4 linked regions of the Homo sapiens genome follow. The protein of the gene in region 4 purifies or fractionates together with the protein of the main gene of each other region. This does not show direct contact. Each region holds a gene or a part of one and is shown on either strand. Other genes may lie near its edges.

What was found.
Region 1: the proteins of NOP58 (region 4) and DCAF13 purify together in Homo sapiens (affinity purification with mass spectrometry; 2 studies listed by BioGRID, with this or other methods). This does not show direct contact.
Region 2: the proteins of NOP58 (region 4) and SNU13 fractionate together in Homo sapiens (co-fractionation; 3 studies listed by BioGRID and IntAct, with this or other methods). This does not show direct contact.
Region 3: the proteins of NOP58 (region 4) and NOPCHAP1 purify together in Homo sapiens (affinity purification with mass spectrometry; 2 studies listed by BioGRID and IntAct, with this or other methods). This does not show direct contact.

Annotation. Positions count from the first base shown.
Region 1 is NC_000008.11:103,432,372-103,439,398, reverse strand, and holds part of DCAF13 (DDB1- and CUL4-associated factor 13), read right to left. Parts: intron 6,741-7,027; coding exon 6,658-6,740; intron 3,774-6,657; coding exon 3,609-3,773; intron 1-3,608. UniProt on the Homo sapiens protein: Part of the small subunit (SSU) processome, first precursor of the small eukaryotic ribosomal subunit.
Region 2 is NC_000022.11:41,685,844-41,692,807, forward strand, and holds the start of SNU13 (NHP2-like protein 1), read right to left. Parts: upstream 2,954-6,964; coding exon 2,951-2,953; intron 2,485-2,950; coding exon of another isoform or gene 2,385-2,484; exon of another isoform or gene 1,875-2,384; intron 1-1,874.
Region 3 is NC_000012.12:104,989,316-104,996,342, forward strand, and holds part of NOPCHAP1 (NOP protein chaperone 1), read left to right. Parts: intron 1-2,396; coding exon 2,397-2,533; intron 2,534-5,162; coding exon 5,163-5,381; 3' UTR 5,382-7,027. UniProt on the Homo sapiens protein: Client-loading PAQosome/R2TP complex cofactor that selects NOP58 to promote box C/D small nucleolar ribonucleoprotein (snoRNP) assembly. Acts as a bridge between NOP58 and the R2TP complex via RUVBL1:RUVBL2.
Region 4 is NC_000002.12:202,268,763-202,275,789, reverse strand, and holds part of NOP58 (nucleolar protein 58), read right to left. Parts: intron 678-7,027; coding exon 601-677; intron 1-600. UniProt on the Homo sapiens protein: Required for the biogenesis of box C/D snoRNAs such as U3, U8 and U14 snoRNAs. Part of the small subunit (SSU) processome, first precursor of the small eukaryotic ribosomal subunit.

The sequences.
Region 1 (7,027 bases), on a different chromosome or scaffold from region 4:
AAAAAAAAAAAAAAAGCTTAATTAAAGTGAGTTGATGATTTACATGTGTGAAAAGGAAGGGAGGACTACAGAAGTGTCTGATAAGTTGAGGTAAGAATAATTTAATAGAGCCAGGTGCGGTGGCTCACACCTGTAATCCCAGCACTTTGGGAGGCTGCAGTAGGTGGATCACGAGGTCAGGAGATCGAGACCAGGTGAAACCCCATCTCTACTAAAAATGCAAAAAATTAGCCAGGCATGGTGGCAGGCGCCTGTAGTCCCAGCTACTTGGGAGGCTGAGGCAGAATGGCGTGAACCCAGGAGGCGGAGCTTGCAGTGAGCCGAGATCGTGCTACTGCACTCCAGCCTGGGCAACAGAGCAAGACTCCATCTCAAAAAAAGAAAAAAAAGAATCATTTAATAAATGGAGATGTCAAATATCATACCTATTTGGAAAGGCTGTGAAATATGCTAGAAGAATTCACAGGTGATACTATATTAGTAAGTGTTAAGAAAGGCATTAAAAAGCAAGTAAAATACAAGGTCAGAAAAAGTAAGATGAAACTTCTGGAGAAATAAATTTTCTGCATCTGGATTAAATTATTCAAAATGCAGAGTATATAAAGAGGAAGGAAACAGGCTCAATAAACTATGCACAGTAAAATAAAACTCAAACAGAATGACTAAATCAAATATTCATATCTATAAAAAATATCTCTAAAGTAGGCAAGGTGCAGTGGCTCATGCCTATAATCCCAGTACTTTGGTGAGAGGATTACTTGAGCCCAGGAGTTTGAGACCAGCCTGAGTAACACAGGGAGACCCCATAGCTACTAAAGATAAATTTTAAAAATTAGCTAGGTGTGGTGCTGCTCAGGAGTCTGAGGTAGGAGGATCACTAGAGCCCAGAAGACAGGGGCTGTAGTGAGCCGTGTGGCATCACTGCACTCTAGCCTGGCTGACAGAGCCAGACTCTGTCTCAAAAAAAAAAAAAAAAATCTCTCGACTATACTCACAAAACTGGTCTTTTACACTGTTTCTGATAGGTATGTTTTAAGCACTTTGATAAACCATTAGAAATTCATTTTTAAAAGAGAGGGGATGATTAAAAAGAACGTCCTATTAAAATGAAAACTAGATGAGATAGACTGCTTTTTCTTCTCCCGCTCAGTGCTCTGCTTTTGAAGACTCATTTCTTATAATCTCCACATACCTAAGAAGCCCTTTTTTCCAAAGCAGTATAATGCATTTGAAGTAGGGAAATTCAATCAGGTTTCCGTAACCATTAAACATAATCTGTTCATGCAGTAGACCAGTCAGATCCAACGGTTAGTCACTTAAGTAACTGAGAATCCTCCCCAATGGTAAACTATGCTGAGTTCTTAACTTCTAGATATGTTTATGTCTGCATATATGCTAAGTTTATTAAGCTCACCAAAAGTTCTACTATTAGGAGATAAATACATTTTTAAAGGCTTAAATTCTTTATATACACAGTCACACTAATTTTTCCATGTGAACACTATTAATTTACTTGTTTGCTCAGTAAATACTGAATGAACTTCCAACAGAAGCCTACTTTCAAATACTGACTTAACTGTAGTTTTAAAAAATTTACTCAAAATTTATTTTAAAAATAATATGCTTTAGCCATTTTAAGGTCTTTTAAAGGAAAATATTTTTTAAATACAGATTATTCACCCAAGCATGAGTTATTTGATGTTTATAATGATAGGAAACAAACCACAGAAACAAATTAGAACTAGCTTTCAAGCAGATAAAGGCAAAGGTCAGAGGGAACACCATTTATATCTAAACACAACAGGACGTTAACACATATTAAGACTGTGATTACAAAACCTCCAAATGACATCAGGAGACAATTTCTTAGAAATGAAATATAAGAACCCTTTTATACAATTTTGGAATAATGTGAGTTTTCTAGCTAGACCTACATTTAGCTGTCCACACTAGCTTTGGAATAATTCAGCCTGAACTCAGCTGCTGGCCCCTTGGGATCATAGGTAACTACACAGTCCTGTTTTTTTCTTTGTTCTCGTTTCATTCTTTTGTCTACTTATGTACCATGTTGGAAAAATACTATCCTACTACCTTTGGAAGTTGTGGTGCCAAGAAATGATGGAGGACCATATTCTCTTGATTCTCAACATTTTCCAGAGGTGAGAGAAATATGGAAGCTATTAGTCTTGCCTTGGGCCTAAGTGAATAATGCCAAAAAAACACTCATGACAATTTGGAGAATATCAAGGCAGCAACAAAGGAAGCAATAGTCACATAGGAACACACAGCAGAAGCTCTACAACAGAAATGATGAAATGAAGATCAAAGTCATCAGAACACTCCTGTCAGTATGCTTCTAACTGAAGCACCTTCATAATCAGATAAACAGTGATGAAGATAATTATCTGCTGACAATGACGATACATGGTGTAGAAATCCATATGGCTTCCTCAAATTACAGTGGAAAAAGACTTAAATATCACAAGTAAAAGAGCAAAGAGTTAGATAAGCAGATTGACTATGACCATGATCATCCAATTATCATAATTTTTTGAGAAAAATTATTTCCATTTATTTGGATTTATTTTATGGATGCTTCCAGGAACACATCTAAAGCATTACTAAGGAACAATGGGAATGTGTATAACAGCTCTTTGTAAACCATAATTCACTATACAGGGGGCTGTATCTATACAGGACTTAGTTTTTAAAGTCAGTCTGTAAAGTGAAAACTCGAGAACAAAATTCCCCTTGCAAACTCCTTAAAATGCCATCACTTTCTGTAAACTACCTCTTTACAAAAATAAGATATAATAGATGTATAAATAGATACTGTATTTAATAACATATAATATGTAGTAAAGGGCCAAACTATACAAAACACAATAAAAATCTTAAATATTAGAATCACACTCTATGTGCTTACAAAATGAGACACACACGAGACTATGGGACAGCTGAGTATTCAAATCTCCCACCTCTCAACCTCTCATCAACCAAGCCATATACCTACTAAAGTGAAATAGAGGGAGAACGGTCTTGACAATTTAAACTTACTTTTATTTCTTTTTTAATTTTTGGTTTGGCATACAGAGTTGGATTTGACTAAGTAAAAAATAACAAATGTAAAGTATTATTACTAATTTTTCTTAAACTGTATTGGAGCAAAAAACTTTATTAAACTCAGGTACCCTCTCAGAAAAGATAAATAATAATCAGGACAAAGAAAAATGAAACAAAAATAGTCATATGACATTTTGGTCAATGAGAGACTGCATATACGACAGTGGTCCATTAAGATAATACTGGATTTTTACTGTACTTTTCCTGTGTTTATATATGTTTACATAAACAAATACCACTGTGTTACAATTGCCCACAGTATTCAGCACAGTAACATGCTGAACAGATTCGTAGTCTAGAAGCAACAGGCCATATCATATGACCACACAGCCTAGGTGTGCAACACGTTATACCATCTAGTTTTGTTTAAGTGCACTCTGATGATGTTCACACAATGATGAAATCGCCCAATGACTCATTTCTCAGAATGCATCCCCATTGTTAAGTGACATATGAATATAAATGGCTTACTGGTAGGCACATACCTGCTTCGACTTTTGTCTACAGGAAAGATTCGAATAGATTTATCGAAACTAGCAGACACAAACTCCTTCCCAGTGGGAGAGTAATCCACATCAAGCACTGCAGATACATGATCCATATGGACCATTACAGGAGTGTCCAGTGCACGCATATCAAAAGTATATAAGCTGTAAAAGAATTTTTAAATATTTGACACATATTTCTAGAAAGATGCCATATGCAGTACTAAAAGATACCACTGAAAACAAGAACCATTTGCAAAACAATGCACATCTAAACAAAAAGCTCAATGCTGTACACAAGCAGGTGAGGGATAAGGAAAAATTTCAACAGTTTTTATGATTCCTTAAGACTCCACTTATATATATACCAACACATTTTCCACCCTATAAATCTCATTGTAGAAAATGTGGAAATTTCAAAAAAAGTAGAGTACAAAAATTACCTTGAATTCTACTACCCAGAGGCCAGTTATTTAGTACAGCATAATTTTTTAAAAAACCTTTTTCACCATACTATTTAAATACATACTTTTAATAAAATTGAAATGTTATGTAAAGCTTTATATTCTGATATTTCACGTAGCATATTAATGAGCATTACCCATGTTATTAAACAATCTTTGAAAATATTTTAATGGCTGTATATATAAGTTCAAATAATTTATTTCCCTATATTTTAATAGTTTCCAACATTTTATTATATATAATGCTTATTAAATTCCCAACGTTTGGATTTTTAACATTCAATCTTTAACTGAATGGGACAGGTTCAATTAAATCTGGACAGATTCCTACAAGTAGCATTGTTAAGCTTAAAGGCATGAGCATTTTTAGGCTTGATTTGAGTTGCCAAATCACTGCCAACAAAGTTGCACTAATTTATACTCCTACTGGTGATATGTAAGAGTGAACATGGCCTTTCAAAGGGTGAATCAAAATGAGAAACTATACTTTATGCACAATTGGTAAAAACAATGACTTCATGAGTTTCAAGATTCAAAAATTCTTAATCTAATGGCTAAAAGAATAGTGCTTCAAATGAACCAACATGAACAATGGACAAAAGTAATACAGCAATATTGTGACCAAGTTCCTAATATAAAAATACTTGAAGATGCTAAGATTAGTGAGTAGAAGTCTGAGAAGAGGATATCTACATAGTTTCAAAGTATCTCCCCAAAGATATATAATAATTACAAAAGGAAAAAAAAGTAACTCTTTAGTGGAGAAACCTGGCAGACACCACCCTAACCAAATGATCAAGGTTAACATTACTAGTAGTAAGACATTGACAACTGCTTTACAGTTCCTGCCTAAGAACAGTGGTTTTCAGCTAGGTTTGCTTGGTTCCAGCAAACTGCTTTTTAGTAAGATGCTTTATTTCTACATGGGAAAAATGATAAGAATTCCAATTCTAAGCATATCAATTTGTGTACATGGAAAACCTTTAAATAAACAAAGTTCCACATTATAGGATTCATTAGGGATCATCTATTCTAACCCTCACCTTACAGATGCTGAAACTATGATATAGAGTTAGTTTAAATGACTTGCCCAAGTTTATACAGTAATTACTGGTCGGCCTAGACTTGAACTTAGGTTTCTAATTCAGAATGACTAGAATATCTAAAGGGCAATAAAAGAAAAAAATACTTACAAATATAGAAAAGGGATACAAAAGCAAGATCATTTTCAAAGAGCAATTATGATACTCCAACAGTCACTTATTATAAGGGATATGCTCTTTGTTTCAGGTGGCATATGCAATTCTTTTCAAGGCAAGGAATGAGAAATTCCGAGGACACTCTGAAAAACGGTACCTTGCTAAAATAGCTTATTAGAACATTCTTTAGAAATCTTAATGAGGTTGGTCACAATAATGCTGTATTACTCTTGTCTTTTATTGCCTTTAACTGGAACAATGCCACTTAATTTCAAAACATCAATAAAGGTTAAAAAAAAAAGCTTCAATTACTGTGGTTTGGTATTGCTAGTTAATGAGAGTCTAACTGAGCTTCTTTTATTTTTTTAAGACACCAGGGTCTTGTTCTGTTGGCCAGGCTGGAGTGCAGTGGCCCAATTACAACTCACTGTAACCTCAAACTCCTGGACTAAACCTCTTTTTAGCAGAAAGTCATAAAAGATGCTTTTAGTTGGTACCACTAAAACATCATATAATAAATCCTTTTATGAGCTAACACTACTACTTTTTTGCTTCCAAATCTACATAGTGGAACATAAAACAATACAAAGATCTAAAGTTCAATCCACCAACAAACTTCTGCCTTCTTAAAAAAAACATGTATTAAGAATCTATCAAAGGCATAGCGCTATAATAAATGCTTTGGGAAAAAAAAAGATAAGATACTCTTTCCTCCCTGGGAGACTAATCTCCCCGCTTTAATATCTTAAAAAGGGGATAACATGCATGTCCCACCTACCTCATATGGATACTGAAAAGATAACTATAATTTTTCTTCCATCTGACTGAACAGTGATAGCTGATAACATGACCACATGAGCATCAGCTACCTGATACTCACCGCAATACAAACATTGCAGGCAGATATTTTCATTTCCATTAAAACATGTATGGTTCAGTCATTATTTATAAGACCTACATCAAACATCAGCCAACTTCTTCTGTAAAGGGCCAAATGTTAAACATTTTCAGGCAAGTGGGCCATAAGGTCTCCGCTGCAACTATTCAACTCAGGCATTATAGCACAAAAGCAGCCATATCCAATATCTAAATAAGTAAGTGGGTGTGGCCATATTCCAATAAAACTTTATAAAAAACAGGCAACAGAAAGGATTTGGTCCACGAGTTGTTTACTGTCCCTGGTCTACATCATTCTAAATACTGACGAAATAAATACTTTTCTAAGAAGTTCTTCTCCAATTTGGAAAACTTTTTAAAGCTAAACAGATGACAGTTTTCAAACTTTATAGGTATACCTACCTAGTGGTATATATTTTATTAGTACGACTTATACAATTAAGCCATTCATGATAGAAATACACAAGTTTTTAAAAGAGGGAAACTTACTTATAATCTTCATTTGCTGCTGTAAAAATGAAAGCTTCCATAGGGTTCCAACAGATTGTATTTGTTCTCATATCTAAGATAACCTGAGAAAGGAAGAATGGATGAATTTCCCACTTCCTTTCCTTTTCTTTTCCCCACTGATTTAAGCAAATATTTCATAAACACCTATTATGTGTAAAGTACTCAGCTCAGTGCAATGGGAAGAGAAATCAATCAGTAATTGCTTCTTAAATACACAGGCAGAATAGTAAATATAAAAATAGAAATGCTTAACTCCCAGTCTCCTAATCTCAAACAACTTACAGTTTAGTCAGAAAAATGTGACACATAATAAAAGTTAAAATATAAACAATAAAGTAACAAATGACTA
Region 2 (6,964 bases), on a different chromosome or scaffold from region 4:
TGTAATCCCAGCTACTCGGGAGGCTGAAACAGGAGAATCGCTTGAACCAAGGAGACAGAGGTTTCAGTGAGTCAAGATCGTGCCACTGCACACCCAGCCTGGGTGACAGAGCGAGACTCTGTCTCAAAAAAAAAAAAAAAAAAATTTGTAGAGACAGGATCTCACTATTTTGCCCTGGGTGGTCTCCAATTCCTGGGCTAAAGAGATTCTCTCGCCTCAGCCTCCCAATTTCTGGGATTGCAGGCTTGAGCCACAGTGCTTGGCCACATCCCGTCTTTTAACTGGAGCACTCAGTCCCTTTACATATTTAAGTATTGGTATAATGGTTTCAAATTTTCCTTCTTTTGTGCCTTCTATTTGTTCCACTTGTTCTGTTTCTTTTTCTTTCTTTCCTTTCTCTGGATTTATCATTGCATTTGCACTATTTTCCCCTCTACTGATTTGGAGTTTATTCTTTTATCTTTTTTTTTTTTTTTTAAGAGACGGCATCTCCCTCTGTCGCCCAGGCTGGAGTGCAGTGGCGCAATCTCGGCTCACCGAAACCTCTGCCTTCCATATTCAAGGAATTCTCCTGCCTCAGCCTCCCGAGTAACTGGGACTACAGGCATGCACCACCACGCCCAGCTAATTTTTGTATTTTTAGTAGAGATGGGGGTTTCACCATGTTGGCCAGGTTGAACTCCTGACCTAAGGTGATCCACCCGCCTCGGCCTCCCAAAGTGCTGGGATTACAGGTGTGAGCTACCACGTCCGGCCATACAAATGTTTTATTTGATACTACAGTAGGGATTTTTTTTTTCTTTGACACAGTCTTGCTTTGTCACCCAGGCTGTAGTGCAGTGGCATGATCTCGGCTCACTGCAAACACCGCCTCCCCGGTTATAGTGATTCTCCTGCCTCAGCCTCCTAAGTAGCTGGGATTACAGGCACGCACCACCACGCCTGGCTAATTTTTGTATTTTTAGTAGAGATGGGGTTTCACCATGTTGGTCAGGCTGGTCTTGAACTCCTGACCTCATGATCCACCCGCCTCAGCCTCCCAAAGTGCTGGGATTACAGGCGTGAGCCACCGTGCCCAGCTGGAAATTTTGGTTAATAATTTATCACAAGTTTTATTTATTTATTTTTTTGAGACGGAGTCTCAAACTGTCACACGGGCTGGAGTGCAGTGGTGTGATCTTGGCTCACTGCAACCCCCGCCTCCCAGGTTCAAGCGATTCTCCTTGCCTCAGCCTCCCAAGTAGCTGGGATTACAGGTGCCCACCACCACGCCTGGCTAATTTTTTTGAATTTTTAGTAGAAACAGGGTTTCACTATGTTGGCCAGGCTGGTCTCAAACTCCGGACCCCATGATCCACCCGCCTCAGCCTCCCAAAGTGCTGGGATTACAAGCATGAGCCACCGCGCCTGGCCCTGTTGCATGTTTTAAAATAGATATACTTAGAAATATTACATGGAACCCCCAAAGTATGTACAACTATGATATGTCAATTTAAAAAAACTTTAAAAATTGCCATTGTTTCCAACAACCCATTCTCTGGAAATCAGGATTCTCAAATCTCAATAAACATCAAATTCATAAAAGAGGAAGACTTCAGGAATCTGAACAATCATTAAATACCTAAATGTTTCACTATTAGTCAACAAAAAAGTTAAACTCAATTTTAAAACCAAACTAGCTTATAAACACTAATTGAAACTTGCTTAGGGTGTATTTATTTGCCTTTCAATTTCTTCAGGGGTTAAATAAATTAACGAATGATATCATACCACCAGCCAACCTAAATCCCTACCTAGCATGATCAGTTTGGTTTCGCTGTACACCAGACAGCCAAAACTTGCAAGGTTTTGATTGAACAACAAATACTGCGTGCTTACTCTGTACCAAGCATCAGGACTAGATGTTTACCATGCTTTATTTCATTTGATCCTCACAACACCCTCATGCACTGTCATCCCCATTTTACAGTTGAGGAAAACTGCAAAGTTCAACCTGAGACCATCCGATTCCAAAACGTTTCAGGGAGCTGCGTTAAAGCGAGCACTGAGTTTGGAAGCTTCAAGTTCTAGGCTCAGCCACGTACTAAGCTTCAAAATGCATGGGAGGAGGTTTGTGGGGAGTGCTACCGCCGGGATCCAAGCTCCACTGGAAGGATTAACTATAGAAGTTACAGTGCTTTACAAATTCTTCCCTCCTCACCAAGTGCCAACCAAAACTACTACGCCAGGACACACGTTTTAGAACTTTCCCTAGATGTTTAAAAGTCAGAGACGACCAAGAGTTTAGAGACGCCGCACGTGGTGCTACCAGACTTCTGGTTTTTGAAGCCACCGCCTTGCAGGAGAAGCCTTTCCTGCACTCCAGGCCGTGAGTCGCGCTCACTTCATGTTCCCCACAGCCCCCAAATGCCAAAGGCTCCTCTAGGTCCCTGGCGCGTGTGACTCGCGGCGGGCACTAAGCGCAGACCCATGGGAGATCTCCTCCTGAACCCCAGCAACGGGGGTGGGGTGAGGTAGGGTGGGTAGGAGAGGTTGATCCGAATCCCAGGGTCCCACGCCATCGTAGATTTCGTATGAAAAGAAACAAGGAAAAAAAAAAGTTGGAGCCAAGTTTTCTTCACCCAACTTTTTGCCCTCTCCCACGTGGGTTGGTCTCTTTCTCCCAGGCTGGGCCATGCCCCCTCCGCTCGCTGCAGGCCTTTTGCCAAGCAAACAGACCGTGCGGCAAAGCAACACAGCTGCGGGGATCCTAAGGTTTCCTGAGTTCTAACCTCGGGCCAGGCTGCTGGGACCCCGCCGCTGCTGGGGTTCTAACTAAGGGCCCGGCGGTTAAGACCCAACGCCGGCGGATGAGACGGCGCAGGCTCTAAGCCTCCATCTAACAGGCTAGGGAGTGAACGCAACCCTGAGTCTCCCGCTTCCCGGTCCCTCGGCCGGCGCACGCACTCACCATGGCTGCGGTTCCGCGGGCTCAGCACTCCTAGGGGAGCGCAGCTGACGTTTCAGAAGCACTCGCGTGCACCGGAAAAACTCACAGAAGCAGCAGCGGAAATGGCCCCGCGCGGCAGGAAGCGAAGGTGACGCTACGCGAGCGAGTGGGCCCCGCCCTCTACGGGGGCACTGGCGCGGAAACTGGCCCTGTGTCGAAGAAGGAACGTACTTTGGCGTTCTTATGAGCTGCCTAGTACAAATTATTGGCAGAAACAATGAATTAAACATTCAAAAAGTAACCCACCGGCCGGCCGCAGCGGCTTATGGCTGTAATCCCGGCACTTTGGGAGGCCGAGGCGGGCGCATCACCTGAGGACAGGAGTTCGAGACCAGCCTGGCCAACATGGCGAAACCTCGTCCCTACTAAAAAATACAAAAATTAGCCAGGCGTGGTGGCGGGCGCCTGTAACCCCAGCTACTTAGGAGGCTGAAGCAGGAGAATCGCTTGAACCCCGGAGGTGGAGGCTACAGTAAGTTGAGATCATGCCACTGCACTCTAGCACTCCAGCTGAGGCGACAGAGCGAGACTCTCAAAAAAAAAAAAAAAAAGGCCGGCCGGGTGCGGTGGCTCCCGCCTGTAATCGCAGCACTTTGGGAGGCTGAGGCAGGCGGATCACTAGGTCAGGAGATCGAGACCATCCTGGCTAACACAGTGAACCGTCTCTACTAAAAATACAAAAAATTAGCCGGGCATGGTGGCGGGCGCCTGTAGTCCCAGCTACTCGGGAGGCCGAGGCAGGAGAATGCCGTGAACCCCGGAGGCGGAGCTTGCAGTGAGCCGAGATCGCACCACTGCACACTGCACTCCAGCCTGGGCAACAGAGTGAGACTCCGTCTCAAAAAAAAGAAGAAAAAAAAGAGGGCCGGGTGCGGTGGCTCACGCCTGTAATCCCAGCACTTTGGGAAGCTGAGGCGGGCGGATCACCTGAGGTTGGGAGTTCGATACCAGCCTGACCAATATGGAGAAACCCCCGTCTCTACTAAAAATACAAAATTAGCCGGGCGTGGTGGCGCATGCCTGTAATCCCAGCTACTCGGGAGGTTGAGGCAGGAGAATCGCTTGAACTTGGGAGGTGGAAGTTGCAGTGAGCCGAGATCGCGCCATTGCACTCCAGCCTGGGCAACAAGAGTGGAAACTCGGTCTCAAAAAAAAAAAAAAAAATTCCAGCCACTAAACAGTTAAGGCCTGGCTCATTATAATTGGCTGACGTCCCTGCCTGCTCAGATATTTAATATTTTGAATAGAACTTTTGGGTAAAAGAGTCTTCAGGGTAACATTTATTTTCCCACCAACACTGATCCTAAGATGGGAAAAGTAATTCCCCCACAGGAAATCAGGATACTGCAAGCAACGAGAAAGGCATGTTGAGTGGTTAAACAAGAATACATGTATTCAATACAGTGTTCATTAAATGTTTGATAATAGAAGGACAGGCAGATCCAAGTATTTCATAGGAAGAAAGAAATCAAGCAGACCGCAGGTTATATCACCCCATCACACATTCAGGGAACTTAATCTTTTCATTCCAGAGGATGGGTTTGTTTAAAACAAGTTCTTCCTCCTAATTACTTTTGAACAATTCCCCAATACTGTCCTTACCTGCACCAAGAGCATGCTAACCAGGCCTGGCACCAGGGTCAGAGTTGAGGCTGGGGCATCAGCCCCCTTTGTGAGGTGGCCTCAGTGACAGGGGTGCTATGAGGTGGCGGCTATCCTACTGCAGCTGGCTGCATCAGATGTGCCAGGCCTGCCCTCTAGCTCCCAACACCATCTGCCTGATCTAAGCTTTGCCATGTTGTTGTCACTGCTGGGTGCCTGTGCTGTGGTGGGGCCATTCCATGGCCCTGAGTGGGAGCCAGTGCAGGGCCTGCTCTCCCAGAATCACAGCTGCAGGGACCCTCAGTGCTGTGGCAACCTGCTTGTCCTCTGCCTCTTTCTGGTCTGGCAGGTCCGGCACTGTTGGCACCAGGTCACCAGGACCCGCTTCAGCACAAGGAATGTCATCAAGGTGAGTGGGCCCCATACACCTTCACCCTTCTTCCCTCAGCACCATGATTGTCTCTGTCACTTGTTACAAGGACCTTGTTTTATGCCTGGTGTACCAGAAATGAATCAGAGGGAAACTCAGGCTGCTCAGGGAGAGCATCGGCCAAGCCCCAAACCCAGGAGTCACCCTGAGCTCCTCTCTTTCCCTCACTCCACACATTCAATCCATCTGCAGGTCCCAGGGGCTATACTTGCAAATTGTATCTCAAATCTGATCACTTCTAACCACACCACACCCTCCTGGGCAGAGACACCATCATGTCTCAACTGGACCATAGCAACAGCCTTCTGCCTGGTTCTTGCTGCTTCTCTTATCCAACCACAGCCTATCCTCCATACAGTCACCAGAATGGCCTTCTTCTTTCTCTCTCTCTCTCTCTCTCTCTCTCTCTTTTTTTTTCTGAGACAGAGTCTCACACTGTTGCCTGGGCTGGTGTGCAGTGGTGTGATCTTGGTTTGCTGCAACCTCCGCCTCCCTGGTTCAAGCGATTCTCCTGCCTCAGCCTCCCGAGTAGCTAGGATTACAGGCGCCCGCCACCACGCCTGGCAAATTTTTTTTTTTTTTTGTACTTTTAGTAGAGATGGGGTTTCACTTTGTTGGCCAGGCTGGTCTCGAGCTCCTGACCTTGTGATCTGCCTGCCTCGGCCTCCCAAAGTGCTGGGATTACAGGTGTGAGCCACTGTGCCTGGCCTCTTTTTTCTCTCTTTTAAAAAAAAAAATTGGTCCAAGGATAATACACACACACAATTACAAGTGTGTAGATCAGTAAATTTTCATAATTGAATACATCAGTTTGTAGCATGCAGATTAAGAAACAAATGATTACCAGCAGCCCAGAAGTTTTAGTCACAACTCTGCGGATTTCCTTTTCTTTTCCTTTTTTTTTTTTTGAGATGCAGTTTTGCTCTTGTTGCCCAGGCTGGAGTGCAATGGTGTGATCTCGGCTTACCTCAACCTCTGCCTCCCAAGTTCAAGCAATTCTCCTGCCTCAGCCTCCTGAGTAGCTGGGATTATGGGCATGCACTACCACACCCGTTAATTTTGTATTTTTAGTAGAGGCGAGGTTTCTCCGTGTTAGTCATGCTGGTCTCGAACTCCCGTCCTTATGTGATCCGCCTGCCTTGGCCTCCCAAAGTGCTGGGATTACAGGAATGAGCCACCACTCCTAGCCAACTCTGCAGATTTCTTTCTTGTTTTTCTTTTTTTTCTTTTCTTTTTTTTTTTTTTTTGAGATGGAGTCTTGCTGTGTGGCCCAGGCTAAAGTCCAGTGGTGCGATCTCGGCTCACAGCAACCTCTGCCTCCCAGGTTCAAGTGATTCTCTTGACTCTGCCTCCCTAGTAGCTGGGATTACAGGCATGTGCCACCACGCACAGCTAATTTTTGTATTTTTAGTAGACACAGGGTTTCACCATGTTGGTCTGGCTGGTCTCGAACTCCTGACCTCAAGTGATCCACCCACCTTGGCCTCCCAAAGCGTTGGGATTACAGGTGTGAGCCACCACGCCTGGTCGACTCTGGATTTCTTTCTTTCTTTCTTTCTTTCTTTGAGACGGAGTCTTGCTCTGTCACCCAGACTGGAGTGCAGTGGCGCGATCTCGGCCCACTGAAAGCTCCACCTCCCGGGTTCATGCCATTCTCCTGCCTAAGCCTCCTGAGTAGCTGGGACTACAGGTGCCCGCCACCATGCCTGGCCAATTTTTTTTTTTTTTTTGTATTTTTAGTAGAGACGGGGTTTCATCGTGTTAGCCAGGATGGTCTCAATCTCCTGACCTTGTGATCCGCCCACCTCGACCTCCCAAAGTGCTGGGATTACAGGCGTGAGCCAGTGCACCCAGCCTCTTCTTTTTTTTTTTTTTTCAGATGGAGTCACGCTCTGTCACCCAGGCTGGACTGCAGTGGCGTGATCTTGGCTCACTGCAACCTC
Region 3 (7,027 bases), on a different chromosome or scaffold from region 4:
GATAGACTTACCAGCCTTTGTGTGTCTGAGAAAGTATTTTGCTTTCAGTTTTTGGAAGATGCTTTAATGGATTTAGAATTCTAGGTTGACAGTGTGGTTTTTTGCTTTTTCTGTTTTCTCCAGTACTTTAAAGACATCACTACACTTTCTTTTCAGTGGCATTGTTTCTGACGCCAGTGTCTACTGTCATTTTGTGTCATGAATATGGTGTTTCTTTTCTTCTCTGGCTGCCTTTAAGATTCCCTTCATTACTGGTTTTTACCGATTTTATGGTGATGTGCCCTTTGTAGTTTTCTTTGTGAGTCTTGAGCTTGGGTTTGTTGAACTTACTGGATCTATGGGTTTATAATTTTTATCAAATTTGGGAAATTTTTAGGGATGTTGTTGTTGCTTGCTCCTGTCTCGCCTCTCCTGAAGGGACTCCAATGACACCTAATTTTGCCAGTTGAGGTTGTCTCACAGCTCATTGATTGTTTGTTTGGGTCTTATGTTTTGTGTGTTTCAATTTGGATAGCTTCTATCGCTGATTTCGTTGAGTTCACTATTCTTCTATATTGTCTAATCTGTTAATTCTATCAAATGTATTTTTTCAAGGTAGATACAGTTTCCATCTCTAGAAGTTTGAGACTGTTTACATCTTTTTTTCTTTCCTTGTGTTTGTGCTTTTCTTTTCTTCCTTGAACATACAAAGTATATTTCTAAGAGCTGTTTTAACATTCTTATTGCTGATTCTGTCGTCTGCATCATTTCTGAATCTTTTTTCCCTACTCTTTATGGATTATGTTTTCCTGTTTATTTGCATGTTTGCTAATTTTTTATTAGATGTTGGACATTTTGAATATTATGGTGTTGTGTGTTGAGTATTATTTAATTTAGAAGAACCACGACTGGACTAGCCTCAGGGTTCAGCATATACTCTCCTAGAGTACCACGGAATTATTTGGCTTCTGAGGATCACAGTTCAGGCCGCACATTTTGGTACTTGTTTTGCTCTACTTGATTCATTAGTTGGAAACAAAAGCAGTACCAGATTTTCTATCTGTAGCAATATATTTAAATCTGAGGACAGAGAAATACCTTTATTTGTATTAGTAATTTCTCTTTCTGTAATCTGAAGGGGAATGAGAGCTAACATTCACTATTACGTCGGGCTTTATTTGTGTGCATGCTCTTAGGGAGTCCTTCCAGCACCTTATTTTACAAATAGAGGTCGTCTACTTGACCTTGGCCACTATTTTCTTTTCTTCTTCCATACGCTGGACATTTTAGTCATCTGTTATGTAGCCATAGCAGTTACATAAGTTTTGAGAGTCTGTTATATGCGTGGTTATGTGCTGGGCCTCTTTTGAGAGAGAAAATAAATATCCTTGTTTGTTGACTGCTCTGTATTTGGCACAGTGACTGACAGTTATCACTCCTCTTTTATGGATTAGTACGCTGAGGTTTCAAGAGGTAGAATTAAATGTATTAATTAGGATTCTTGGTTGCAAATGACTAAAATCCAGCTCAGATTGCCTTAAGCAAAAAAAGAAATTATGTTGGCTCTTTTTATTGGGGGAAAAATACTCCAGGCACAGTAGATTTCAGGTGCATCTGGATCCAGGTGCTCAGTGTCCTCAGAGGTCAGCCACTCTGTCTCTTAGTTCTGCTTTCCTGGGTATTGGCCTAATCTAGAGCGTACTCTTCCCCCAGGTGTGGAGAGTTGCCAGTTTATCAGCAGCTTCAGCCTTATATTCAGCCAACTCAGTCATTCACTCAGAAAGATTTCTCTCTCAACAGTTCCAACAAAAGGTCCTGAGTGATCTATTATTGGCCCGACTAGAGCAGCGTGTCACTGTGATGCCACTAAAGCATGGTACAGTGGCCAAGGATATGGAGGATGTAGGCATGTATGGGGTGAGGGGCAAGAGTGACTAAGAGTGACACAAGCTTAAAAGGAAAGCCAGGGTTATATTATCAGAAGAAAGGGAACGTATGTTGGGTAGGCAGAAATAACCACTACTTAATTAACTGGCCCAAGGTAATTCAGATAGAGGTAGAACTAGGATTCTGTACATACCTAGTTATTCGTACCCTAAAGCCTCAGAACCTGGTGCTCTTAACTGTTAAGTCACACTGCCTCCCTATTTAGTTACTATTTGTTGAATGCCAGCCTTCTAGGAGTTTACAGTCCTGGGGATATATGAGAAACATAAAACATTTGTGAAACAATTGCTGGATTGTGTAGTCCTACTGTTTTATTCAGAAGAGGATGGAGGGTTTTTAAATGAAGGGAACTAAAAGATATGTAATTATGGTTGTTATTATTAATACTCAATTCAGAAGTGTTTATAGGAAATCCTGGGTTTCAGAATTTACTAGCATAAATGTTGATATGCTGTATTTACTTTCCACAGTATTGGACCAGGTACAGACATTTCTCCCACAGATGGCACGGGCAAATGAAAAGCTAAGAAAAGAAATGGCAGCTGCACCACCTGGTCGTTTCAATATTGAAAACATTGATGGGCCTCATAGTAAAGTTATACAAATGGTAACTATGCTTTGTTTTCATATGGTGAAATTACTGGTCTGCCTGTCACCTAAGAAGAAGAGAACTTTTCCATTTTATTTTCAAGTTTTCATTTTCCTGGTGTTAGCTCATGTTTCCAATGTTGTATAGGTACATAGTCATTTTATGATTTAGTCATTTTAGTCATATGATGTCACAGGAAGGTTTTTTTTCCTAAGTCAAATGCTACATTTGTTATTCTGAAGCATTAATTTACTCGATGTCCTAACTGGGTTTTTTTCTGTCCAAGCCCCAAAAGAGGTAATCATAGCCTGATTTATTGAGTATGCAAAAATAAATGATGTGTGGAAGAGAGCAATTGATTACATAAGCTATGTGCAAAAATGTTCTCTCAGTTTATACTCATATCTTGTTTCTGCAGTGGAATTCCGTTTATAATATCTGTGTCTGGACCAAGCTGAGACAATTGTTAATAATATCTAATTCATTAGCCATTCTATTCAGCTCTCCCTCCAGAATAGATCCCAAATCCAACCACTTTGTACAACCTCTGCAGTTCCTTTGGACCTTTGTTGGCCCAGGTAATTATGGCCTCTCCTTTGGAGTATTGCAGCAATTTCTTAGCAGGTTTTCCTGCGTTCACTGTGCCTTCCCTGGGGTCCGTTGTTCACACAGTTTGGGACCTGGGGGCTTCCCATCACGTTTCAAATAAACTAAGTCCTTCAAAGGGTCCATATGATCCTGCCTGCAGTTCTCTATCTCAGAGGTTCCCAACCCCCAGGCTGTGGACTGGTACTGGTCTGTGGCCTGTTAGGAAGCAGGTCGCACAGCAGGAGGTGAGCGGTGGGTGAGAGCGCATTACCACCTGAGTTCTGCCTCCTGTCAGATCAGCAGTGGCATTAGATTCCAAAAGGAGCGTGAACCCTATTATGAACTGTGCATGTAAGGGATCCAGGTTGTTGTGCGCTCTTTATGAGATTCTAATGCCTGATGATCTGAGGTGGAACAGTTTCATCCCCAAAACATCCCTGCCAAGGTCCGTGGAAGAATTTTCTTCCACAAAACTGGTCCCTGGTACCAAAGAGGTTGGGCACTGCTGCTCTGTCTGACCTTATCTCCTACACAGTCCTCATTTACTGCCCTCCAGCACCAGTCTCACTGCAGCCGGTCTTCTCCCCTGCGGTTTTCTCAGGTAGAATGCTTTTCCCTAGATTTCTCCATTTCGACTCCCTCTGTTTCTTTTCAGTCGTCACCTGATCAGGAGGCCTTCCCTGATAGCTGTATTATTATTTTATCCTGCTTTATTTTTCCATATTTTCACAACCCTACATTATGCTTTATATGTATTTGTTTATTGCCTTTCTTTCGCCTCTGGAACAAGAGTCAACAAATGTTTCTGTAAGAGGTCAGATAGTAAATACATTAGGTTCTGTGGGCCTTACTGTCTCTGTTGTGACTGGTGAACTCTGCTGTCATAGTGTGAAAGCAGCCACTGACAATACATACATGAATAAGCAAGGGGAAAACATTTTATTGGGGAAAAAAAACCTCCAGGATTGGTGATTTCAGGTGCACCTGGATCCAGGTGCTCAGTGTCCTCAGTGGTCAGCCGCTCTGTCTCTTGGTTCTGCTTTCCTAATGTTGACCTAATCTAGAGCATGCTCTTCCCCCAGCTGTGGTAGGTTTCTGGTTTATCAGCAGCTTCAGCCTTAGAGTCAGCAACTCAGATTTCTCTCTCAACAGTTCCAACAGAAGGCCCCGAGTGATCGCTTATTGGCTCAATTAGAGCAGTGCGTCACTGTGTATGGGTGCTGAAATGAGAATTTCATATAATTTTCACCTTTCGTGAATAGCAGTATTTTAATTTTTTTCCCCCAACCACTTAAAAATAGAAAAAACATTCCTACTTTGTGAGCTGAACAAAAGTAGGCGGTGGGCAGGATTTGGCCTGCAGGTTGTAATTTACTGGTCTCTGCCTGAAAATGTAAATTTCACCAAAGCGAGGGGTTTGTTTTGATTTTTTTATTGTTATTGAGTCTCTAGTACCTAGTGTAGTGCCTAACTCATGTTAGTATTTGCTGAAAGAATGTTGTTGAATGTGTTTAGGGTATATAGAATTGGGCCGTAGCAGATATTTTAGACACTTAGAGTAAATTTAAATCATCATTATGACAGACCCTGGTAACTAAAAATATAAAAGAGCCATGTTGTATTAAAAACATTTCTTATCCTTGTGGCCTGGTGTGCTGTCTCATGCCTGTAATTGCAGCGCTTTGGGAGGGCAAGGTGGGTGGATCATTTGAGGTCAGGAGTTCAAGACCAGCCTGGCCAACAGGGTGAAACCCCATCTCTACTGAAAATACAAAAATTAGCTGGATGTGATGGGGCACACCTGTAGTCCCAGCTACTCAGGAGGCTGAGAGGCACAAGAATTGCTTGAGCCCAGGAGGCGGAGGGGGCAGTGAGCTGAGATCACACCACTGCACTCCAGTCTGGGCAGCAGAGCAAGACTCTGTCTCCAAAAAAAACCAAATTCTTATCCTTTATGTTTCAATATGTTTGCTGAATGTTGGTTCTTCCCAATATTGTTTTATTACGACTTTTTAAGGAACTGCTCTGAAATAGATTTCCTGTCCACTACTTTTTGCAGGATGTGGCTTTGTTTGAGATGAATCAGTCGGATTCAAAAGAAGTGGACAGTTCAGAAGAGAGTTCACAAGACAGTTCAGAGAACAGTTCAGAATCAGAAGACGAAGATGACAGCATCCCATCTGAAGTCACCATAGATAACATTAAGCTTCCCAATTCTGAAGGTGGAAAAGGCAAGATTGAAGTTTTGGACAGTCCAGCAAGTAAAAAAAAGAAATAGTCAAATAAATTATCTGAAAAGAAACAGGTGACATATGTCTGCAAATTCTGTGAAAAAGAATGTGATTCACGGGTTCTTTTGCTTTTCAGGCACCTATGGTGCTTTTATATGTTAAAAACTTTAGACAAGTTAAATTTGACAGAGTTTCTTTGGGCAAAGAATGATTAATGAGTTAGGTAGCATTGTAAACTGAAAGGGGTTCAGAGACCTCCGCTCTACAGCAAGGAAAGTGTGCTTTTATCAGCTGAACACAGAAGTAGAGTACAGGAATAACTTGATGGGTTACAGCTAGGTGTTTGCCTAAATAAGGCAAAGAGGAGACCTAAGGCTGCCTGATGTCCCATAGGTATGGTCTGATCTAAGGAGATCTAAGGCTGCCTTGTCCGATGGGCTGAGGCTTGGCTGTTTGTGATTGGCCAGACTTGGCTATTTGTTATAAAAATACACTCCTGAGTTAGGTTTTGGTGTGTAGAGTACAGGAATAACTTGATGGGTTACAGCTAGGTGTTTGCCTAAATAAGGCAAAGAGGAGACCTAAGCCCAGCATGTCGTCCACTGTTTGGGATGCCTGCAAACTAACCATTAGCTCCTCCTGCAAACATCATGTGTTCTGTTCCCTTGAGAAATTTCTTTCATGCATATGGTGGCAGTGTCCAAAGAAACAATAGTGTCAGCTACAAATTGTATTGAATTTTCTGTAGTAGCAAAATCTGGAAAAATAGGTACAACATTCAGTTTTGTTTAGCACCATACATAACCCCCAACATGAGCAAAGAGGAGATCTAAGGCTGCATGATATCCCATTAAGTGCTTTTGTTAAATGCTTTCAGAGGGTGGCTCCTACCCCAGGAGGTCTGGTTGGTCATAAAATAAGATTTTTCCCTATCTGTGCATTAGTTTTAAATTCCATATGACTAGCACCCAACCACTACAAAGAGTGAGTCCCCAGGAGCCCCACTGTAATCTTTCCTCAGTGGAAACTAGCATATCTTTTTTTTTTTCGAGATGGAGTCTTGCTCTGTTGCTCAGGCTGGAGTGCAGTGGCGCGATCTCAGCTCACTACAAGCTCTGCCTCCCGGGTTCACGCCATTCTCCTGCCTCAGCCTCCTCAGTAGCTGGGAGTACAGGCGCCCACCACCATGCCCGGCTAATTTTTTTTTTTTTTGTATTTTTAGTAGAGACGGGATTTCACCGTGTTAGCCAGGATGGTCTCAATCTCCTGACCTCGTGTTCCACCCTTCTTGACCTGCCAAAGTGTTGGGATTACAGGCATGAGCCACCGTGCCCGGCTGGAAACTAGCTTATCTTTATTTTCTTCATCTATTCCAAGGTTGGTGCAAATTTCAATTGCTGACCATTTTAGACTCTGATAATAGGAGGTATTTATGGGGACTTTTGGGGAAGCTATTTGGAAGGCAGGATTGAACCATGCCAAATAGCAAGATCCTAACCAGTGGGGAGCAAAATGGAGTAAGCATATTTTCTGTAGACCAATACAGGCAGACCCTCTGAGGCTGGAAAAGAGGGCTACCTAGTGGTATTTGAGCATCAGTCAGTTCAGTTCATCCACTGGTACATCTGCATAGCTCCTGAACAAGGTCCAGGAGGAAACTTACTTTTTTATAGTTCCCCTCCTTTTAAAAAGA
Region 4 (7,027 bases):
GACTGAGGCAGAAGAATAGCTTGAACCCAGGAGGCGGAGGTTGCAGTGAGCAGAGATTGCGCCATTGTACTCCAGCCTAGGTGACAGAACAAGACTCTGTCTCAAAAAACAAACAAAAAAACCAAAGATTTAACATCTACACTAAGAATGAATCTTCCATGAAATTGTGATGAAAGAAAAAGTAGTTCATGCTAGTTTTGATGTTGCAAAACTCAAAAAGCAGGTTACAACCCCTGTGTGCGGTAAGTGCTTAGTTAAGATAAAAAAGGTATTACATTTGTGTGTGGAAGACACGAAGACAAATGTGTTCCTACTGACAGCAATCACATTTGGTACTATCCGAGGTTTAAAGTATCCACAGGGTCTTCTGGAACATAATCCCTGTGGGTAAGGGGGAGACTACTGCCTTCAAATTAATTGAGATGGCCTATATTCCAAGTAAAACATTTGTAATAATTAGGTTCATACCAAAATTATTCCTGAAACAGATTTCAAAACAGAAAACTACGAATGTAACATTATATAAATCAGGGAAAAATGTAAAAAATAAAACAAGCCCTAAATGTTAACTGCTAAATTATTGATTTCAAGAGTACTTACATTTTGTTTGCTTTCTCTGGAGTTTCAAATTCTTTCCATAAACTATCAACCTCTTGAAGTTTCTTCTCATTTAGAACCTGTAATAAAATGTTTAAATAGTTTTATTTAAATGGTACAGGTGAGGCATATACAGCTGCATTCTTCAAATACAATTTTACATGTAAAATGAAGGTGTAGAAGCTATTTCTTTCACTAAGATAATGAACTAGTTTTCTTACCCTGCATGTAATTTTGGTCAAATTACTAGTTCGAATTGCCCATTTAACAGCTAAATGGAATTCAGATCTAGTCCAGTCAGCTGTAGTACAGTGGCTATTCAGTCTAGAATCTACCTGGCCTCAAGAGATATTCCTGCCCCAGCCTTGGGCCGTAGCTGGAGCTATGGGGTCCTAGGGGGTAGGGCAGGGAACCTTTCTTTTTATTTTTTTGAGATGGAGTCTCGCTCTGTAGCCCAGCCTGGAGTGCAGTGGAGCAATCCTGGCTCACTGCAACCTTCACCTCCTGGGTTTATGAGATTCTAGTGCCTCGGCCTCCTGAGTAGCTGGGATTACAGGTGTGCACCACTGCACCTGGCCGAGAACCTTTCTTTTAAAAGAGCCATTAATCCCTTTACAGTAAAGTATTGTAATCATTAAAAACTTTAATTTGCGCCAAGCATGGTGGCTCACATCTGTAATCCCAGCACTTTGGGAGGCTGAGGCAGGCGGATCACCTGAGGTCAGGAGTTCAAGACCAGCCTGATCAACATGGAGAAACCCCGTCTCTACAAAAAAAAAAAAAAAAAAAAAATACAAAATTAGCTGGGCGTGGTGGCACATGCCTGTAATCCCCGCCACTCGGGAGGCTGAGGCAGGAGAATTGCTTGAACCCGGAGGCAGAGGTTGCAGTGAGCCGAGATTGCGCGACTGCACTCCAACCTGGGCAACAAGAGCAAAAAACTCCATCTCAAAAAAATAAAACAAAAAACAAAAAAAACTTTTGTCTACTTTCAATAGATTATATTCGTTATTTACTGCTATGATCATCCTAACATGAAAGTATTATGGATTTCTCTAAAACTATCGTCAATTGTGAGACACATCTAGATGTGAGAAATTTTTTAAATGCAAAAGAAACATAGGGTACTTTAATCAACAATATACTTATCAACATTTAGGTATATATTCTCCAAGACTTTGAATGTCTGTGCAACACATGTTCATGCATACTTTTAGGAATCACAGTAAATGGCTTTTTTTTTTTTTTTCTGAGATGGAGTCTCACTCTGTCGCCAGGCTGGAGTGCAGTGGCGCAATCTCGGCACACTGCAGCCTCCGCCTCCCGGGTTCAAGCGATTCTCCTGCCTCAGTCTCCTGAATAGCTGGGATTACAGGCACGCACCACAACACCCAACTAGTTTTTGTATTTTTAGTAGAGACTGGGTTTCACCAAGTTGGCCAGGCTGGTCTTGAACTCCTGACATCAGGTGATCCACCTGCCTCGGCCTCCCAAAGCGTTGGGATTACAGGCGTGAGCCAACACACCCAGCCGCCTTGTATTGTTTTGAAGCAAGACCTAGACATTTAATTTTTACCTGTTAATATTTCAGTTTGTATCTATAAAATATAAAGACTTGTTTTAAAACTAGTACTGTTGTAACAACAATGCTAAAGATTGCAATGGTAATAGTTGTATACTATTTCTACTTAGAAATGGAAATTATCTTAAAATGATAAAACTTAAAATGGATTTCTGTATACAAATATTTATCATTACCCTGGCTGAAAAGAAATGATTAAAAATTTGAGACAAATAAAAACTTTGAGACAAATGTAATACAGAAAATGTAGCAATATCTCTAACTTTCTTATTTAGATGGTCTTTATTAGCAATGTTTTCTTCAAGATGTTGCAGTTGGGAACACAATGGTTTTATTTGTCATAGTAATGGTTTTGGCTGACATAACATAGTCTTTGAAGACCTTTGTGTGCTCATGAATTGCCCTGATTTTATCACATTTCCTTTGTTATTTTAACTTCAGTTTTAGAATGGTGATAGTATTTTTTAATTAATTTATTTATTTATTGAGACGGAGTCTCGCTCTGTCGCCCAGGCTGGAGTGCAATGGCAGGATCTCGGCTCACTGCAAGCTCCACCTCCTGGGTTCACGTCATTCTCCTGCCTCAGCCTCCAGGACTACAGGCGCCTGCCACCACACCTGGCTAATTTTTTGTATTTTTAGTAGAGATGGGGTTTCACCGTGTTAGCCAGGATAGTCTCGATCTCCTGACCTCATGATGCACCCACCTCGGCCTCCCAAAGTGTTGGGATTACAGGCGTGAGCCACCCCGCCAGGCCGAAAGTATCTTTTAAATATGGCAATTTTGTTACCCAAATGTTATCTTCAAATATACTTGCTTTTCAGCTAGAAAAAATGTGAATTTTACTCATGAGTCATATCCCCTATTTGATACATGTCCTCTTAAAAATAGTGAACTTCAGTTATGGTTAGCTGCATTCTCTGAACAATTTCAAAAAATTTTAATCAGTGTTTTCAGTATAGTCATGAGACTTGGTGAGGTGTCTCTGGATTCTAAAACTTCATGATATACAAAGTTAGAGCTATTAGTTTATAAATTGTTAATACCAACTCTAGGCTTTGTAGTTGTTTATTGCTTTGTGTGACTCTAAGTTTTTCTAGTTTGGGTTATTTTTACCAACATATCTAATTCAACCATGTGTGATTAAATTTATACAGGCTGGGCACGGTGGCTCATGCCTGTAATCCCAGCACTCTGGGAGGCTGAGGCGGGCGAATCACGAGGTCAGGAGATCGAGACCATCCTAGCTAACACGGTGAAACCCCGCCTCTAACTAAAAATACAAAAAAATTAGCTGGGCGAGGTGGAAGGCGCCTGTAGTTCCAGCTACTCGGGAGGCTGAGGCAACAGAATGGCGTGAACCCCAGGGGGCGGAGCCTGCAGTGAGCTGAGATCGCGCCACTGCACTCCAGCCTGGGCGACAGCAAGACTCCGTCTCAAAAAAAAAAAAAAAAAAAAAATTATACATCAGAACAAACCCCTAAAATCATCTTGTCACTCATCTAAGTTTTATACAACTTGCAACATTGTGTTTCTCTTACTGAAAATAATATATAACCAGACTAGAACTGCGTCTTAATGTGTAGATGTGCTATATTATGGACTTGATAAATAATGCTTATTAGCAAAGTATAGTTTTAAATTTACTAGCTGTGTTGTTTTTCCAGAGACAGGGTCTCGCTTTGTTGTCCAGGCTGGAGTGGAGTGGTGTGGTCCTATGTCACTACAGCTTCAAACTCCTGGCCTCAAGCGATTCTTCTGCCTCGGCCTCCCAAGTAGCTAGGACTATAGGTGCACACTGCGACATCTAGCTCTTTTAAAAATCTTTTTGTAGAGACAGGGGCTTGCTTTGTTGCCCAGGCTGATCTCTAACTTCTGGACTCAAGTGATCCTCTTGCCTTGGCCTCTCAAAGTGCTGGGAGTGCAGGAAGGAACCATGGCGCCTGATCCAGCTGGTTTTTTAAATAAAAATATATGCATAATATCTGTGCATACTCTATTTCACAAAATTTAACATGCTATTCTTTTTTTTTTTATTTTTGAGACGGAGTCTTGCGCTCTGTCGGCCAGGCTGGACCGCAGTGGCGTGATCTCAGCTCACTACAACCTCCACCTCCCTGGTTAAAGCAACTCTCCTGCCTCAGCCTCCCAAGTAGCTGGGATTACAGGCACATGCTGCCATGCCTGGCTAATTTTTTTTTTTTTTTTTGTATTTTAGTAAAGTCGGGGTTGCACCCTGTTGCCCAGGCTGGTCTCGAACTCCTGAGGTCTGGCAATCTACCTGCCTCAGCCTCCCAAAGTACTGGGATGACAGGCGTGAGCCACCACACCCAGCTTATGTTATTCTTTTACACTCCCAATTGACCTGTCATCAATTGTAAGACATCCCAATTTTAGGGATGTTAAATATGGGGGTTGTGCCTTTTAGGATTGAGCCCATCCTATCTAATACTTGGGCAGCTGATACAGAATATTGGTGAGGGTATATGGAATTAAGAATTTTAATCACTTTTTTTGTTTTTTTTTGAGACAGTGTCTCGCCCTGTCACGCAGGCTGGGGAGTGCAGAGGCGCGGTCTTCTCACTGCAACCTCCACCTCCCTGGTTCAAGCGATCCTCCTGCCTCAGCTGGGACTACAGATTTGGCGACACACACCACCATGCCCGGCTAATTTTTGTATTTTTAGTAGAGACGGGGTTTCACTATGTTGGCCAGGCTGGTTTCAAACTCCTGACCTCATGATCTGCCCACCCCAGCCTTCCAAAGTGCTGGGATTACAGGTGTGAGCCACCATGTCCAGCCTCCTCATTTTCATTTTTAATTGATTGCTTGAGACTTTGTGTGGTTTTTGTTTTGTTTTGAGATGAGGTCTCACTCTGTTGTCCAGGCTAAAGTGCAGAGGCTCAATCACAGCTCACTGCAGCCGTGACCTCCCTCCCACCTCAGCCTCCTGCAGCAGCTGGGACTACAGGCAAGCACCACTGTGCCCAGCTAATTTTTTTTCCGCCATGTTGCCCAGGCTGGTCTGCAACTCCTGGGCTCAAACAATCCTCCTGCTTCACCCTCCCAAAGTGTTAGGGTGACAGGCGTGAGCCACTGCACCCAACCTCTATGTTTTGTGTAAATTATTTGATGCTAACTTTTAAGTTTCACTTCCACAGACAATATGAGCAAGTTAATATTTTATGAAACTTGTTTAAATACAGGATAAAACTGATAATTAGTTTAAAATGTGCACTGCTCAAAAAGAAACAAATCCATACACGCAACAAATGTGAAAAAGCTCTTCGGTTAGCTTCAGAAGCATTACACTAAGTGAAAAAAGCCAAACACAAAAGACTAAAATACTACTCCACTTACATGAAACTTCTAGAAAAAATTATGCAAAAAGAAAGCTGAACAGTGGTTGTCTAGAGCAGGACTAACTTGAAAATGGGCATGAGAACTTTTTGCAACAAAGTGTACTATAAAACTGGATTGTAACTAAAACCTATAGGTGAGTTATACAGTATGTAAAGTACACCCAATAAAGTTAGAAAAAATATATTGCTCAGTACTTAGGTTTTATATAGACATTTGGTATGTACATCAAAAATCTTTCTCCAAACCTTGAGAAAATGAAGTGACACAAAATGCTATGCTACACAGCTACACTGTACAATATAACCATTAAAATTCAAGTAAGTTAAAATTCACTTCCTCAGTCCTATCAGTTACATCTCATGTGAAATGGTTATACGTACTAATGGCTACCACATGGAAGAGCAGCTGAAGGAAGTCTGGTATGAGCAAGACTAAAATCTTATGCTGTGTGCCACGTGACACAAGGACACAGGTGGAATTTCTTTTTTTCTTTTTTTCTTTTTTTTGAGACGGAGTCTTGCCCTGTCGCCCAGGCTGCACTGCAGTGGCGCGACCGCAGCTCATTGCAACCTCTGCTCCTAGGTTCAACTGATTGTCCTGCCTCAGCCTTCCAAGTAGCTGGGGTTACAGGCGTGAGCCACTGCTCTCGGCCACAGGCTGAATTTTTATAATATCCTAGAATTAATCACAACAGTTCCTTTACACAATGTCTTTACATTTATATATATATAACCCTGTTAATGAGCAATAACTTTTTGGAAGTGTTTTCCTTTTGAATCGCTCTAAACACATAAGTGGGCAGAACACCGTACCTCATGGCTGTAATCCCAGCACCTTGAGGCCAGGAGTTTGAGACCAGCCTAGGCAACATAGTGAGACTCTGCCTCTTAAAAAAAAAAAAAAAAATTTAGGCCAGGCATGGTGGCTCACGCCTGTAATCCCAGCTACTTGGGAGGCTGAGGCAGGAAAATCGTTTGAACCCAGGAGGCGGAGGTTGCAGTGAGCCGAGATCACACCACTGCACTCCAGCCTGGGCAACAGAGTGAGACTCCATCTCAAAAAATAAATAAATACAAATACAAATAAATAAATAATTAGCCAGGCATGGTGGCTTGAGCCTGTAGTCCCAGCTACTCGGGAGGAGGTGGGAGGATCACTTGACCCAGGAGGCCAAGGCTGCAATGAGCCATGATCCTGCCACTGCACCCCAGCCTGGGTGACAGAGCAAGACCCTGCCTCAAAATAAATTTTAAATACATAAACATGAATTTGTATGTGTACATGGGTTATACATAAAATGTTTTCCTCACTGTAAATGGAAGTTTAAAAAAAACTTCAAGGCCAGGTGCAGTGGCTCACGCCTGTAATCCCAGCACTTTGGGAGGCTGAGGCGGGCAGATCACCTGAGGTCAGGAGTTCGAGACCAGCCTCAACATGGAGAAACCCTGTCACTACTAAACATACAAAATTAGCTGGGCGTGGTG